2 separate regions of the Homo sapiens genome follow, and region 2 is linked to region 1. A link means that fine-mapping ties the variant in region 1 to the expression of a gene that starts in the linked region. Tissue or cell type: tibial nerve. Region 1 holds a variant in brackets; the other region holds the start of a gene. All regions are shown on one strand. Distances are between the middles of the regions.

The links. PIP is the estimated chance that this variant, and not a neighbour inherited with it, causes the effect.
Region 2: PLEKHF2 starts here. The variant in region 1 is fine-mapped to the expression of PLEKHF2 in tibial nerve (GTEx, PIP 0.97).

Annotation. Positions count from the first base shown.
Region 1 is chr8:95,096,895-95,105,000 of GRCh38, forward strand. It overlaps a transcript of NDUFAF6 not described here. Among named protein-coding and RNA genes, the nearest start is that of MIR3150BHG, 28 kb to the left of the region's middle. RefSeq lists enhancers at 3,511-3,600, 3,931-3,990. The variant G/A (reference allele first, on the strand shown) is at 3,774.
Region 2 is chr8:95,130,341-95,138,441 of GRCh38, forward strand. It overlaps PLEKHF2 (pleckstrin homology and FYVE domain containing 2), which reads left to right and starts at 3,445. Exons shown (of 2, transcript NM_024613.4): 1 at 3,445-3,690. RefSeq lists silencers at 3,187-3,826, 3,847-4,006 and an enhancer at 7,519-7,668.

The sequences.
Region 1 (8,106 bases):
TGCCATTTTCCTCGTAATTGCCAAAGTGGAGGCAGAGATGTTGTGCAATTTCAGAGAGGAGACCTCCAGGGGCTAGGCAGGGACCTCTAGCAGCTCATCAGCAGCAATACTGGTGGGATCCTACCCAATGAGGCCTAACAGGGGGTTAAGGAGAGACGCACACTCTCTGGGCCCCTGGGCCAGTGAACAGACTCATTTGTACGTTTTCATCTCTGGCTGGAAATGTACATTATGAACTTAGAGAGAACGTCCCAACTTTTCAAATGTCCATGGGAAATTACCAAAATACATGATGCCCCTGGCCTCAAATTTCCAAATGGAGAATGGTGTAGGCTTCATTCCTTGACAACAAATGAAATGAGACTAAGAATGAATAACAAAAAAATAAACTAAGACATCTCAATTTCATGTAGCAAAAGTACACCCCTTATTGGTAACAGCCTAATTGGTAGAAGCAGATAATTGGAAACAACCTAAATGTTCGACAATAGATGTAGAATAGTATACATTAAAATACTGTTGGCCGGGCGCAGCGGCTCACGCCTGTAATCCCAGGACTTTGGGAGACTGAGGCGGGTGGATCATCTGAGGTCAGGAGTTTGAGACCAGCCTGGCCAGCATGGTGAAACCCTGTCTCTACTAAAAATACAGAAAATTAGCCGGGCATGGTGGCATGTGCCTGTAATCTCAGCTACTCAGGAGGCTGAGTCAGGAGAATCGCTTGAACTGGGGAGGTGGAGGTTGCAGTGAACTGAGATCACGCCATTGCACTCTAGCCTGGGCAACAAGAGTGAAACTCCATCTCAAAATAAATAAAATAAAATAAAATATAGTTACAGAATCCATCTTCTGCCTGTATTGGTGGCTCTTCAGTTGAAAATTAAGCATTTAGAAGTTGGTATGCTCCCAAACGACCTAACTTCTAAAATGCAAAGGCACTGGCAAGCTTAGGATCTGATGACTGTCAGATACCTTGCAAATTCCTCATCTGTGGCTAGTGAGAGATCTCTAGGCCTACTGGAGCAGAAAGTATCATGCAACAGTTTGAGGGAGACTTGTGGTTGGTTCTGGATCCCTTTGTCTGGGGTTGCTACGCAACAGTAAGAAAGGTGAGAGGAGTTTCCTTATTTTCTACAGCTCCTCATTTGTAACAGGTTTCTGTTGAGAGCAGCTCATGTCTTGGTGGTGATGTTTTGATCTGGAGTCCCTTTTGCTTTCCAAAAGTGAATTTTCTTAACAGAGTAAGCAAAATGAATCTCTACTGCTACATCTGGAGCGTTCCTAACTGGGGGAAAGATGTTTAAAGCAATGGATACCCCAATCTGGAGTGATCCATTTTCTTTAAAAACTAGCTTCTGGCCGGGCTGGTGGCTCACGCCTGTAATCCCAGCACTTTGGGAGGCCGAGGTGGGTGGATCACCTGAGGTCAGGAGTTCAAGACCAGACTGGCCAACATAGTGAAACCTCGTCTCTACTAAAAATGTATGTCTTGGCCAGGTGCAGTGGCTCACGCCTGTAATCCCAGCACTTTGGGAGGCCGAGGCGGGCAGATCACAAGGTCAGGAGTTCAAGACCAGCCTGACCAACATGGTGAAACCCCGTCTCTACTAAAAATACAAAAATTAGCCGGGCATGGTGGCACACACCTGTAATCTCTCCCAGCTAGTCAGGGGGCTGAGGAAGGAGAATTGCTTTAACCTGGGAGGCGGAGGTTGCAGTGAGCCGAGATCGCACCACTGCACTCCAGCCTGGGCGACAAGAACGAAACTTCGTCTCAAACAAACAAAAAAACTAAGTCTTATTAAAAACTCTATGAACATTTTGCAAAAGTACTGGATCTAATTCAAAGTAGATCATATTGCCATGTTAAAATACAAAATTAGCTGGGCGTGTGGCACGCATCTATAATCCCAGCTACCCGGCAGGCTGAGGCAGGAGAATTGCTTGAACCCAGGAGGTGGAGGTTGCAGTGCGCCAAGATCGCCCCACTACACTCCAGCCTGGGCGACAGAGTAAGACTCTGTCTCAAAAACATAAAAAACAAAAAACAAAAAACTGGCTCTAGGCTGGGTGTGGTGGCTCACGCCTGTAATCCCAGCACTTTGGGAGGCCGAGGCAGGCAGATCACCTGAGGTCAGGAGTTTGAGACCAGACTGGCCAACATAGTGAAACCCCATCTCTACTACAAATAAAAAATTAGCTGGGCGTGGTGGCAGGTGCCTGTAGTCCCAGCTAATCTGGAGGCTGAGGTGGGAAAATTGCTTGATCCCAGGATGTTGAGGCTGCAGTGAGCTGTGATTGCCCCACTGTGCTCCAGCCTGGGTGACAGAGCAAGACCCTGTCTCAAAAAACAAAACAAAACAAAAGCTGGCGTCTCTTTCAGAGTATATTCTTTCTTCTGGGCAACCACCAGAGACTACCAATTCTCTCAGGCTTCCAGCTGGAAAAAAAAAAAAGAAAAGAAAAAAAATGGCCACTCTCATCTGTGCCTTCCTCCATATTCTCTGCCTGCACCCACTTCTGTCATCTGGCCAAAACTGCTGATAGTTCATGTAAGGGGTTGAGCGTAAAGAGTTCTTATACCAGGCATGGTATAATCCCAGCTACTAAAGAGGCTGAGGCAGGGGAGTCCCTTGAGCCCAGGAGTTTAAGATCAGCCTGGGCAACATAGCAAGAGCCTATCTCAAAATTAAAAAAAAAGAAAAAGAAAGAAAAAGAATAAACAAAGGATTCCTAGTGTTTCGCCTGCCCCTAGCAGAGAGGAGAGCTCCCCTAGCAGTAGCTTCTGGAGACTAGATTCTTCTTGGATGTTCTACTTTTTCTTTCTACTCACTCCCAGTTATGGAGCTTCAGCCTTCATCTTACCGGGGCTTGGTGGGGGCACAAAGCCATCTTGAAGTTCAGCTCTTCTCATTCCTAACTACCCCACTACTGTTGTCTCATCACTAAATCGTTTCCTATAATACGGCATCTGCAAGTGCCTATAAAATAATCCTTCATTAATGGAAGTTTAGCTTCTAAATGTTTTCTCTGATGCCTTTTCATTGCCCCAGGCTTTGGGAGAACATGCGCAGGTGTGTCTAGGCTCTTTAGTGCTGGTCTGGGCTACAGATAATGATGCTTAAATCATACGTGAGGCTTGGAGTGAGTTGAACAAGGATTAGCCTATCTCATCTAGAAATTGATTTAAACCAAGTGGGGACTCAATCCAGGGCTCTCCCTACCTTTCTCCCCTCTTAATCATTTCCTGCCTTAGTTCATGCTGTGTAAGGAATAAATGAGCAATCACAAACATTCCTGAAATGAGGATACCCGTAAGAATTAGGTTTTAAAAGTGATTTCCTCCTCAGGATGTGGTCTGCATGCAAAAAAAAAAAAAAATTAAATAAATAGAACAACAGTACATAGAAGACAAAGTGAACAATTTAACTTGAAAGCAGGTTCTGCTCCACAAAAACTGTGGTGGAGGTATGGCTGGATTTTTTTCTTCTTAAAGAAGAGGAAAAAGTTATTGATAATGAAAAGGAAATGATCTGAAATGTTTGGTCTAGAGGGCTACTCCATGTCAGAGGCAAAGTTGCCTCTGCTTCCTGAATATATTATGCCTTTGAATATACTGTGTTACTGATTTACTGTAAGTCTTAGTTTCACTTTCTATGTTTGTTTATGTTAAACCAATTTATCCTGTATGCGAGAGCTAGCTTAGTTTTGGATTGGACGTCTTTAGAAGCTATATTAGTTCAGAAGGGGTTGGGAAGTATTGGCTAAATGAC[G/A]CAGCTTCCAGTATGATTTATACCCAGAAACCTTTGCATGAAGATTCTGACTCAAAATATCCATTGTGTCCATAAACTAATACATTGTTTTCTATTTTTGTAGACATTTCCTGTTTAACTTTCACATACTCTGTAAAGTAGGTGTGCCTATTACTTTGTTTGTTCTTTCAGTTGGACAAACCAAAGCTCAGCAAAACCAAGTTATTTTGCTCTCTTCCCTCCCGACCCCCCTCGCCCCAAGGTTACCGTAAAAAGCGGGAATAGAATCAGTGTTGGCTGCCTCCTAGCTTAATGTTCCATTTCTTGGGTTAAGCCAATCTCAGAGCACTTTTAATTTACCTATTTGTTTAAGCAATCTCAAGGTAAATATGCTTGAGTCAAATTAAAACCAAGTGTTTAATGTGCTTATTTTCAGAATGATTTTACTTATAGTAATTGCCTGCAATACATTGTGTTCTTAACAGGGCAAAGAAGGCTTTATTTAAACACCCCTATCTGGTGACTTAGTCCATTTTCTTTTCATCTGATGATAACATCTGGCAGCACCCTCAGTTCCCAAGTGAGTCACATAATGCACAATGTTGCCCTTGTCTGGTTTTCTCTTAGCTGGGACCATCTAATGGGATTTAGGCTAAGGAATTTCTGCAAGCATAATAGTAGAATCTTAGATTTGGAAGGGACTTTATTGGTTACTTGGTTGCAATTCCCACCCAATGCAATCACCTCTTCCACAACATACCTGAGAGTGGCGGGCACTCCTTGTCTCCCAACTTCCAGAGACAGGGCGCTCACAGCTGGGCAGGACAGTTCATTCCATTATTGAACACTGAATTGCTGGAAGGCTCTTCCTCATGCTGTCATGATGAACTGTCTCTGTAACTTCCACCCCTTGGCCCTAATTTGGTCATCATATGACAAATTATATTACAGTCATATAATTCAAGTGCACCCTAACGTTGAAATTCTGCTTTCACGTGATGGACACATGCATAGTTTTCATATCATCCCCTCAGAAGATGACTCTTCCTAGGTAAACATTTCTTGTTATCTTAATTGTTCATTCCCCTTTTGTGGCTTCTGTAATCAGGATTCTTCAATTTAACAGAGGCAGAAAACCCAACTCAAAATGACTCGAGTAAAGAAAAAAAATTGGCTTCTGTAACTGAAAAGTGCAGAGGAAGAGGCAGCTTCTGACCCAGCTGGATCCAGGCTCAGCCAGTGCCATCAGGGCCTGGTGTCACCTGCCATCTGTGTCATTCACAGTTCCATCAAGAGAGAGCAGCCACGTGATCATTTGAACATTAGGAAAAGTGTAATCTAAAAAAGTATTTTTTTTTTTTTATTTTTGAGATGGAGTCTCACTCTTGTTGCCCAGGCTGGACTGCAATGGCATGATCTCGGCTCACTGCAACCTCCACCTCCCGGGTTCAAGTGATTCTCCTGCTTCAGCTTCCCAAGTAGTTGGGATTACAGTGCCCGCCACCAAACCAGCTACTTTTGTATTTGTACTAGAGTTGGGGGTTTCACCATGTTGGCCAGGCTGGTCTTGAACTCCTGACCTCAGGTGATCCACATGCCTTGGTCCCCCAAAGTGCTGAAATTACAGGCAGGAGCCACCACACCCAGCCAATCTAAAGAATTATTAACTATTAACAGGGGGCTGGGATAACAGTGGATTGGCTAGTAAGAAATAAAGAGAATTTGAAAGAATGCAGGAATAGCAGATTTAAGGAGTACTACTTCTCCTAGGGCTGAGATAGAGCACCTAAGGAAGAATCTGCTACTGCTGGCCCCCCACTCCTGACCCCCTGGGTTGAGACCCAGAACTTGTCAAAGAGCACATGGCTGTGTCTCATTGATTGACAGAGGAGTTGCTGTTATGCAGTGTCAGTGGAACTTGCTAGAAATCTATTCCCTGGAACTTGCTGGAAATTCATCTCTAGGATGCTCAGGAAAGCAATTCATGGGAAAGTATTTCCCATGGGTACCTGAGGGAGGTGCCCTGGTAAGCTGCTGGTACTGAAGGAGCCAGGTGCTAGAGGAGCTGTCAGTGTTGCAAGAGCTGGACACTGGAGAAGCAGCCATGCTCCCAGTGAACACACTGGAACCAGGAAGCAAACTGTATGTCTTCTGCAGTGTCTCTTCAGCGCCCTCTACTGAAAAAGTTTAATAACATGACAAATAGTAAAAAAATACTTTGGGGCCCAGCTAGATTTTTGCTCAACAAACGATGAAGGGTAAATATGGAGCTGAGAGGCAATAAACTGACAGCCGCACACCAACTTTGCTTTCCTTTTTTTCTCTACAGGCTCTACAGTCTCATGTACCTTATGACGACAAGATGGTGGGTGGCAACTCCAGGCTTTTAGCCCTTCATTTTGGTGACCCCGATGCAAAGAGAGCACTTTTGTCCCCCAGCATTATGCCAGATTAAGTTTGACTCTGTTTTGCCAAGCTTGTGTCACATGTTTGTTCCTGAGCCAATCATAGTGTTCAGGTGGTTTTGTGGCTCTGATTGGTCAGCCCTTAGGTGTGAGTGAGTCAACCTTACCCCTGTCAAATGTATGGAGGAAATTCCAAGGAAAATCAACCTGTTGATACCAGAAGAGGGAGAAATGGCTGATAGGCAGGCAAAAATCTACTGTACTGGTGGTTGTTAGGAACAGAGTATGGGGCCAGATATAGCTCGATCAATCAATGACTGTTTTCTCACCTGTAAAGTGGAAATAATAATAATGCCTGTTTGAGTTGGAATGGATAAATAAATGCCACACCTTTTTCTTAACCAAATTTAGAAACAATTGAGAAATTGTCTCAAAAATCAGTAGGATGGCAAATAAAATGTCAGCTTTATTACTGAGAAAAGTTCATATTGAATAACATTCAGGGGCTGACCCTGTGTCATGGTCTCTGGTAGTGTTAAACAGCCCACAGGACCCTGTTCCCTGACCTCCTGCCCCTCTTGCTATGTAGATTGGCTGCTGTAAAACATATGGCATAGACATCCAGTGACTTTCTTTGGAGATAGGCAAATCTCAAAGAGAAGGATAGGAGTGAGCCAGTCCGGGCATGCATGGTTCTTTTGTCTGAACTCCCAATAAAATAAGCTATTCTTTCTTTCTTGGAGAAGAAGTTGGAGTAGGGCAAGAGGACAGGATTGTGATTCTAGCAGAGTTCTCTCCACAATCCCTAGCTTTTTGTTCTCTTAATTGATTGGGCTTACCATTAAGGCTGTGATCAACCAGGGCTTTAACTACCCACTTGGGGGAGATCAGGTGTCTATCAGAGCCTGCTTCTTCCTTTATAAGGCTGCTCCATCAGTTCCAACCACTGCTTCTTCGGGTTTTCTCTTGGCCACTTAACATTATTTTATTTTTATTTTTTAATGTGATAGAGACAAGGTCTCACTATGTTGCCCAGGCTGGTCTCAAACTCCTGACCTCAAGCAATCCTCCTGCCTCCACCTCCCAAAGTACTGGGATTAAGCTGTGAGCCACTGCACCTGTATTTTAAATTCTAATTCATTACCAACATTTAAAGGGTGGGTGATATAGCACATAAAAATTCACATTTCCTAGTTCTTTTGGGAAAAAAGAGGTGAAACAACTTGGGATCCTCATTCTTCCGTGGAAATAATCAGTTGGAACTGAGTATTGGCTGCCAGTTTCAAATAGAGCATGGCCTCTCCTATCTTCTGCAATCCCCACTACTCCCAGTTCTTATATCTAGTCACCTCGCTCACACACCTACTTGCCTGGTCCCTGTACGCATTTACATTTGTAACTCCCTATGAAAGTAGGCATCTTACAGTTGCACTTAAACACAAAGTCAGTACCTTTAAACACAAAGGTACTGACTTTCCTTTTGTCCTGGACTGTCTTTCTCAGCCTCGTCTAAGGATGTTTATGTAGTGAACAGCCTTGGAAGATATAGTGTCCCCTCTGGAGCAAAGGCCATTATAACTGCCCATTCTAAAAGAGTCATGCTTCCTAATCTTTGGCTTCCTCATCCCACTGTAACACACTCCATTGTGTGTGCAGTTGCCATTGGGCTCTCTTCACCCTTTCCTCTGTGTTTCTTTTGTTATGTGACTGCAGCCCCCTCACAGCAAGGTAGATTGTTCCAGGCTGGGCACCTGACCCTCGAGCAGCACTACATTGGTTGGTCAGCACTGATCATGTGGCCTGGCTGGGAAAGATGAGCTGCGGCAGCCAGAGTTTCTCTCTGAGAGAATAAAGTTGTTAGTGACAGGATCAGGAAACAAAAGGATGCCCAGAAAGACAGAAGATTAGAATTGGGGCCATGGAGGGTAAGAGCAAGTCAAATTTTTGAG
Region 2 (8,101 bases), 33 kb after region 1:
AGGTATTTGCCATCCTATCATTTCTTGAATGTTCTATTTTCAATTAAAACTTAACCAAACTATTCACTTTTACAAGATACACGTTAGATTCAAGAACAATAACGTGATCTTTTTTGCCTTTCAGGATTAAAGAATCGGGTTAGTCAGTCTTGGTGGTGCATGCCTGTAATCCCAGTTACTGAAGAGGCTGAGAGGGAGGATCCCTTGAGCCCAGGAGTTTGAATCCAGCATGGGCAGCAAAGCAAGACCCAATCTCTTATTTTCAAATGTAAAAAATTAAAAAAACAAATTGGGGAAATATAAACTCAAGTTTTACTAATCTTTTCAAGTTCCTCTATGTTTTAACAATGTGTCATACACTTTACACATTATCTTATTTCCTCCATTCAGCAGTTTATGAGGAAGTTCCTTTTTTTTTCTTTCTTTTTTTTTTTTTTTTTAAGAGAAAGGGTCTCCTTCCATCATTCAGGCTGGAGTGCAGTGGCTGGATCATTGTTCACTGCACTGCACTGCAGCCTTGACCTCCTGGGCTCAAGGAATCCTTCCACATCAGCCTCCTGAGGAGATGGGACTCCAAGTGCCCAGCTAATTTAAAAATTGTTTTGTAGAGACACAGTCTCACTATGTTCCCCAGGCTGGTCTTGAACTCCTGGCTTCAAGCAATCCTCCTGTCTCGACCTCCCAAAGTGCTGGGATTATAGGCCGGGTGTGGTGGTTTACACCTGTAATCCCAACACCTTGGGAGGCTGAAGCAGGTGGATCACTTGAGGTCAGGAGTTTGAGACCAGCCTGGCTAACATGGTGAAAACTCGTCTCTACTAAAAAGAAAATACAAAACATATCCAGGCATGATGGCACATGCCTGTAATCCCAGCTACTTGGGAGGCTGAGGCAGAAGAATCACTTGAACCTGGGAGGTGGAGGTTGCAGTGAGCCAAGATCACGCCACTATATTCCAGTCTGGGCCACAGAGTGAGACTCTTGTCTCAAAAAAAAAAAAAAAAAATTGGGCGGGTGGGAGGATGGGGCTGGGCGTGAGCCACGTGTCTGGCCAGTAATTCCTATTTTTATCTTCATTTTACGGTTGAGATGTGAGGCTCAAAGAGCTGTCTTATCACTTGACTTGAACAGGGTACCACAATTACAGGTTCGGGTAGGAGTGAATCTTACTTCCTTTCAGTGACTTTTGAGTTCCCTGCTTTGTTCCAGATTGGTCAGTGCTATCCAATAGAACTTCTGCAATGATGGAAATGTTTTATATGTGCACTGTCCAATAGTCATGTGGCTATTAAGCACTTGAAATGTGGTCAGTGTGACTGAGAAACTAAATTTTTAATTTAAATAAATTTACATTTAATTAAGACATGTGGTTAGTGGCTACTGTATTTGTTAGCACAGATCTAAATCAACGGTCTCCAAACTGGGGTGCACGCAGCCCAGGGAGGGCATAGACTATGAAGAGTACAGAAAGAAAACATACATATATATATTTAAAATCATTATTTCTGATTTTTTTGTGTGTGTATGTTGTTTTTTAATGTACCTAACATACTAGGTATATTATAATAGGTGTATGTGTGTATATAAATACACACTATATATATCATACATATAATTCTGTGTGTATGTGTGACTGGGTCTTGCTATGCTGCCCAGGCTGGATTCAAACTCCTGGCCTCAAGTGATCCTCCAGCCTCAGCCTCCTGAGTAGCTGGGTATATTACATATGTAACAACTTTTATTTCACACTTACGTAGCACTATATAAATGTGTATATTATGTATGTAATAATTTTATTTCACACTTGTAAAGCACTGTGTGCCAGGTATATGCTTTACATATATTAATTCATTTCATCTGCATAATGACTCTGTGATATACTTTTATTATCTCCATTTTACAAGTGAAAAAACCAAAGTTATCTTTGGATGTGCCAAGGTTGTTAGAGACAAAGCCAATGTTTGATTACAGTCATTCTGGCTTCTATCTATGCACTTTACTTAAGCTAAATAAGTACATGGGAAGTGAGGAGGGCAAACATTTTTACTAATGTGAGTGACCAAAAATATTTGATAACTAATGCTCTAGGCTTGACCTTAGACAACCAGTCAGACATAGCAATTCCTACTTTCAAAATTTAAAAGGATTTTAGGCATTATTTAGTCCTGCCTTTTCCCCACTGATAGATATTGCTGTGCACGTAGAGGTGAATGAGGTAGAGTGATGGTACGGACAAGCGTCCTGGTGACATCTGTACTCATCTAGAGACAACTCTAACACACGAAAGATTGTGTGTGTGTGATCATACAATTTTCCCCATTTAAAAAAAGTTCATCTTTGCCAATTTTGTTCTAATTATTAATTTAAAAAAAGACTTGTTTGTTTCAGAGACAAACTCTATTGAAATAGGGGAGGATAGGAGGCAACAAGCCTGGAGGAGGAAGATCCCAGGTGGAAGAGCAGGGCGGAACCCAAGTCTGCTCTCATCCCTAGGTGCTCATCCACGTGCAGCTTGGCTGGTAGTGACTCTAATTCAACAGCAATCAAACACAGGTTAAAACAACTTACTGAAGTAATAGATGAATAAGAAATATAAAATTTACCAAAACCCAATTTCCTCCTACACACCACACACACTTTGTTTAAAATAAGTATGCTGTTCTCCCTACTTCGCCCCCATCCCTAGTCTACCCTAAGCAACTTCGTTACCTCTCTACGAACCCATCAGAGCGCTTAGCTATCAGATCAATTAGGGCACATTTAACCTTATATACTATGCAATAATTACAGTTTCTAGGTATGTGAAGTAGGCTGATGGGGTTTTGTGTCGTCAAAGTTTTGGGAAGACCAGAATTCTAAAGTATGCATTTAAAAGAAAGGGCTGGGTGGAGCACGTAGGGTATGTGTGTGTCGCCGCAGTTCCCTTGGTTTCAAGAGGAGGGATTTTAGGTAAAGCAAAGGGAAAGTGTGACGGAAAGGATTGCTGTGCTAAATGGGAGCAGCAAATGCCAGTACCGATGCCTTTGGGCATTTAGATCCAAAGCCTGCCTTTCTCGTTCTTCAGTTCCCCGGGGAGGCCTGTTGTGGGTGGGGAGGTGTCTTCCTTCTATTATTCCAGTCTCCCTAAGAACTTCGTAGACAGTTGAGCAATACTTTCTAAGGGCTGGTCGGAGTCAGGAAAGTCAGGTAAGGCGCCTCACGTGCACCTCAACGCGTCGCGGGAGCGCGTCCCGACCTCACACATGGACAAGCTCCGCCCGCGGCCGGCCTGAGTGGGTGTGGCCTCCGCCAAAGGCCCCGCCCCTAGAGCGCGTCGCGAGGGGCGCGAGGGGCGGGGCGAGGGAACTGGCAAGAAAGGGCGGGGAGCGAGGGGTGTGGGTGTGCTCGTGCCCGCGCGCTCGCGCCCGGAGTGTGGACGGGGGCGCGCCCGTGCGCGCGCAGGGGAGAGGCCAGCCCAGGCAGCCGTTGTCGGGTTCGACTGGAGGGGCGGGGGAGTCACCTGCGAGCGGCTGCGCTGGCGGCCAGCCCGCCCACCGCGTCTGGATCGCGCCGGCTGCGCGGGGCTGCGGACAGCACACACCCTGGAAGGCCCCGGCGGGGAACGGGCAGAGTCCGCGCCCTGCGTCCGCGACCAGGAGGATCGGACCTTCGCCTTCGCTGTCGCCGCCGCCGCCGCCCGCGGCCGTCGGGGTAGGTGAAGCCCGGGTGGGTGGTCCGCCGGCTCCTGACGGGCCGGGAGGGGAGACGCGAAACTTTCCGGGCGCTTCCTCCCGCGGTCCCGGAGCCGTCGCAGCGCCGGGAGGTGTCGTCGTCGCGGGCGGTGGCGGCCGACGCCATGTTGGGGTCTGTGAGAAACGGGGCGCTCCCGGCCGCTCCCCTCGCGCCGGGGCCGGCCCGCGGGCCAGTTGCCGCCGCCGTCCCGCCAGCCCGGGAGCGAGCCGCGCCCGCCCGTAGGACGCCGCCGCCGCCGCGGGGGGACGGGGGCCGCCGGGTAGGGTCCGGTCCACGGGTCTGCGGGGCGGGGGCCGGCGGACGCGGGAAGGAGCCCCGAGGCCGGGCGAGAAGTTGTGGGGCCTGAGGACGGGGGTCCTGGACACGGCCGGGGGCGTCTCAGGGTCGCGACAAATTTCTGGCCGAAAAGTTTGCAGGGTCTGCGTGTCGGGGACCTTATGACCTGAACTACATATTTGTATGTCACTTGGGAGACGAAAATGGCCCCGCAGAACTTGCTCTGATAGAAGCGATGGTTTATTTATTTGGAGCCTTTTCAAGTTTTATGATCCTTTGACGAATTTATTTTTCTTTTTAAAAATGTGATTGAAGGCCGAGAGCGCGCTGCCGGTGTTGCTTGAATAGCCTTGTGTGCTCTCCGTACATTCCAGCAATAACTTGAGTGTGCGGTGGAAGTGGGTATGAAGGTTACAGACACCTAAGCCCTCCTCGGTAATTCATAGACTCACAAAACGCGTTGTTGATAAATGCCTTCTTTGTCGTGTTGTGTAGTACGTTGCTGAAGAGACTCATTAAAGAAAGATTTAGACAGAAACTTTGAGAGTCTTAAAGGCATGTGTTCTCTTAAGAATAAGAAGTGATCTTGACAGTTTGAAGTTTTTTTCCCCTCCCTTTAGTTTCTTAAGGGTGAATGCCTACCGCGTTTTGAGCATTTACTTTTTTTAAATACTCTGGCAGCTCGTGGGGTCTTCACGTTAATTCAGTATTAACGAAGGCTTCATTATAATCTCTTTGGGTCCCGACCACACGGGGAATGAATGGTATTAAGCTATTTATTTGGAAAGCACACGTAATCGGCCTCTAAATAAAACTAGTATAGTGACTAAGCTTCAGAAGAAAATATTCAGCCTCAGTAAATGAATCTAAATGATTTTTAAATAAAGACATCTTGCTTTAAAATTCTGTTAAATGAACTGAAAAGGCTCTTAAACACAAATACAGTAAGCCCTAAAACCCCAAATTCTTGGAGAATTTTACTTTTTAGATCTAAAAATACAGCTTCTGCTCATATTTGATTGTCAATTTCTTTTTCCTTTTTTCTCTTTTTCCTTCCTTCCTTTTCCTTTTCCTAGACAGGGTCTCTGTCTGTCGCCCAGGCTGGAGTGCAGTGGTGTCATCTCCGCTCACTGCAGCCTCAAACTCCCGGGGCCCAGGTGATCCACCTCGGCCTCCTGAGTAGTTAGGACTACAGGAGCGCATCACCACACCTGGCTAATTTTTGTTTGAATTTTGTGGAGAGAAGGTTTTGCCATGTTGCTCAGGCTGTATTGCCAATTTCTGTTGTTCTTAAAAATTCTTTTAGTTTTGCTTCATTGTCAAGTAAATGGCATTATAACATTTTTTATTTAGAAATGAAATTAACTAATTTCACAAATGTAGCAGCCAAACTGGTATTTAACTGAGATCTTATGACTCTGAAGCCTTTTCATTTTTCCTGTAGCATAACTTTGTAGGATACATAACTCAGTCTTCTGGAGCAATCTGTCCATCTCGTTTGCTCTTATCACTGCTCTGACTTGAATTTAGTTCTTCAGTATAAATACTTATTTCCCAGCGAGCTGATTTACAGGTGATCCTTGTGATGAAATTTTTTCCTTAAAAATACTTAAGCCTATACTCTTTGAAGCCTTTTCTGCTCTGTTCTCTCATTCCACTCCCTTGCCCTCTCCAGAAATCAATTAATTTCTCCCATGGTATTACTGTAAATATCGCATAGATTCTGTCATGACATCTCCTTGACAGCAGGCAACACATCGGGTCTGATTTGCCTCTTCATTCCCTGCATGCCAAGAACATAGCAGATGCTCAGGAAAGGTTTGAATGGATGAGTACACGTATGTTTGTTCCTTGTAAATATGCTTCATGAATTTCTTTTGAAATTGTAAATTCCATGAGCATCATAGTTAAATCTTCTTTGTAGTCTTTTTCCCAATACATGCCATCAACTCCATTAAATCCACAGATTGGTTTTTATTATATATACACACACACACACACACACACACACACACACACACACACATGTTTTGTTGTTGTTTTGTTGAGAATTTAACTTAGTACCTGAGTGAATTTTCGCCTGGGGGTACAGAACTTGAATATTTATGAAATTTCTAAGTAGATAATGGATTAAAGTATAATTACTGATGTATGAGAGAGAAGCCATGGATCATCAAAAGGATTATAATCATAATTTTAAGTGTGATTGAATGTATTTGAACTTGATGGAAATATTGTTAATGCTTGAAAAATTTAAAGGTCATATTTATACATTTAAGCTCTTGGAACAAATCTCATTATAGCTCTATCAATTATTGTTTTGCCGGAATTGTCTTAGAATTTTTAGAATGCCCTGCTTAATAGAAAGTATATGAAAAATTTTTTTGTTGTTGTTTATCTTTGATGAACCAGCTTTGTACATGAGCTGCCTGCTTAATATTTAAAAGCAATGTATGTGTTGACTTAACTGAATAAAAAATACTTCATGGATACACTTTCACAGTGCTGTTTTAAGTTGGAAAACCTCTCTAGGTTAAGGTGTTTTGTAATTCTATAATGCCTATAGAATTCGGGGTTTATTTCCTGCCCCCACCCAAGATAACTTTCTCCCCTGTCAAACTGTAAACCACAAACTAATGTGCTCAATTTAGGGAGGTCCTGAGAAGAGAATAAAAGGCATTCAAATAGTTGCTGTGAATGCACTGGAAAGAAAGCAAGTTGCATGTAGGATGGACTGGAACAAATAAACCTTGTCCTGACTCAGCTCCTTGCTGGCTTGTGACTCTTGAACAAGCCGCTTCACTTCTGTAAGCTTCACTGGACTCATTTGTGAAATGGGCACAGAAATATTTGCCTCAGTGTTAGCGTGAGGGTCACCCAAGATTCGATGTTTGTGGAAGGGCCTGGAATACGATAGTAGCTATTATTTTAACAAATGAACAGAGTGGCAGTGAATTATATAGAATCATAGAATTTAAAAATTTTTAAAGGGAAGCAGCCTGTAGGAATACCTAGTTCAGTTTTCAGCCTTGGCTGCACATTAAAATCTCCTGAAGAGCTACTTAAAAAGAATATTGCCTGGATCCCACCCCAGGACAAATAAATCAGAATTACTGGGTTTGGGGACAGAACAAAGGTAATTTTGCCTCTTTGTTAAAACATCCCCGATTTTAGTGTTCAGTCAGGTGGAGAACCTTTGATTTAACTCAATTTCCCATCTCCTTTCTTATGCTTTTCATTTTGTAGTTGAGTAAAATGCAGAGGGGTTAGCTGCCAGCCAGATTCCTATCAGTCAGGCTAGAAAGGATGTATTAAATATTTGCAGCTGAGGAAAGTGAAGTGCATAGAGGTTAAGTAAGGGTTACATTCATTTCTGGCCAGAATGGCCACATTTGGAACTACACTTCACTAACTCCGGTGACCCCCACTGCTACTCTACAACAGCAGCCTGCATGTTGTGACCATGTTACTTGTCATCATTCAGAACCACTCTACCTCAGGTCTTAAACCCTGTGGCCAGATGGCGATGCAAGGGTCTGTTTTCTCTTTCTCTTTTCTGTCATAACTGGTTAAGCAGCTTTTTGTCCTTATTGTCACCTCCAGTCCCTCCTAGGCCATTAGTTGTCTTCCCTCTTTTCAACCTTGAACTCTGTAGTTCATGTTCTAACCATGAACTCACTAGACCACATAGTCCCTCCTCTCCTTGACCTTTGCTGGGTGTAACTGGTCAGTTTTCTACCTTTGTCCCTGCCCTACACTCTCCCCCAAAGTCACGCTTTTGGTGATCATTACATACTTGTTTTCTACCTGCTTTATACTAGTTACTTTCTAATCCTTTTCTTATCCCCAAGTTGACTTATTTTCTCTGTTGCTTTTTCACTCCAGTCAGGTTGCTAACCCCAGTCTCGAAACATGTTGAGCAGATGACCTTACTTCCTTCTAAAATGATTAAGATTTTATGATGTGAATTTTCTATTTTCTTCTTTGCACCAACTTCTTCATCTTCCCCCCCCCCCCGCCCCTTTTTCAGAAGTGGAACTATTTTTAATTCTTTGTACTTGTTTCATTTAAACAACAGTTGGGGAAAAAGAAA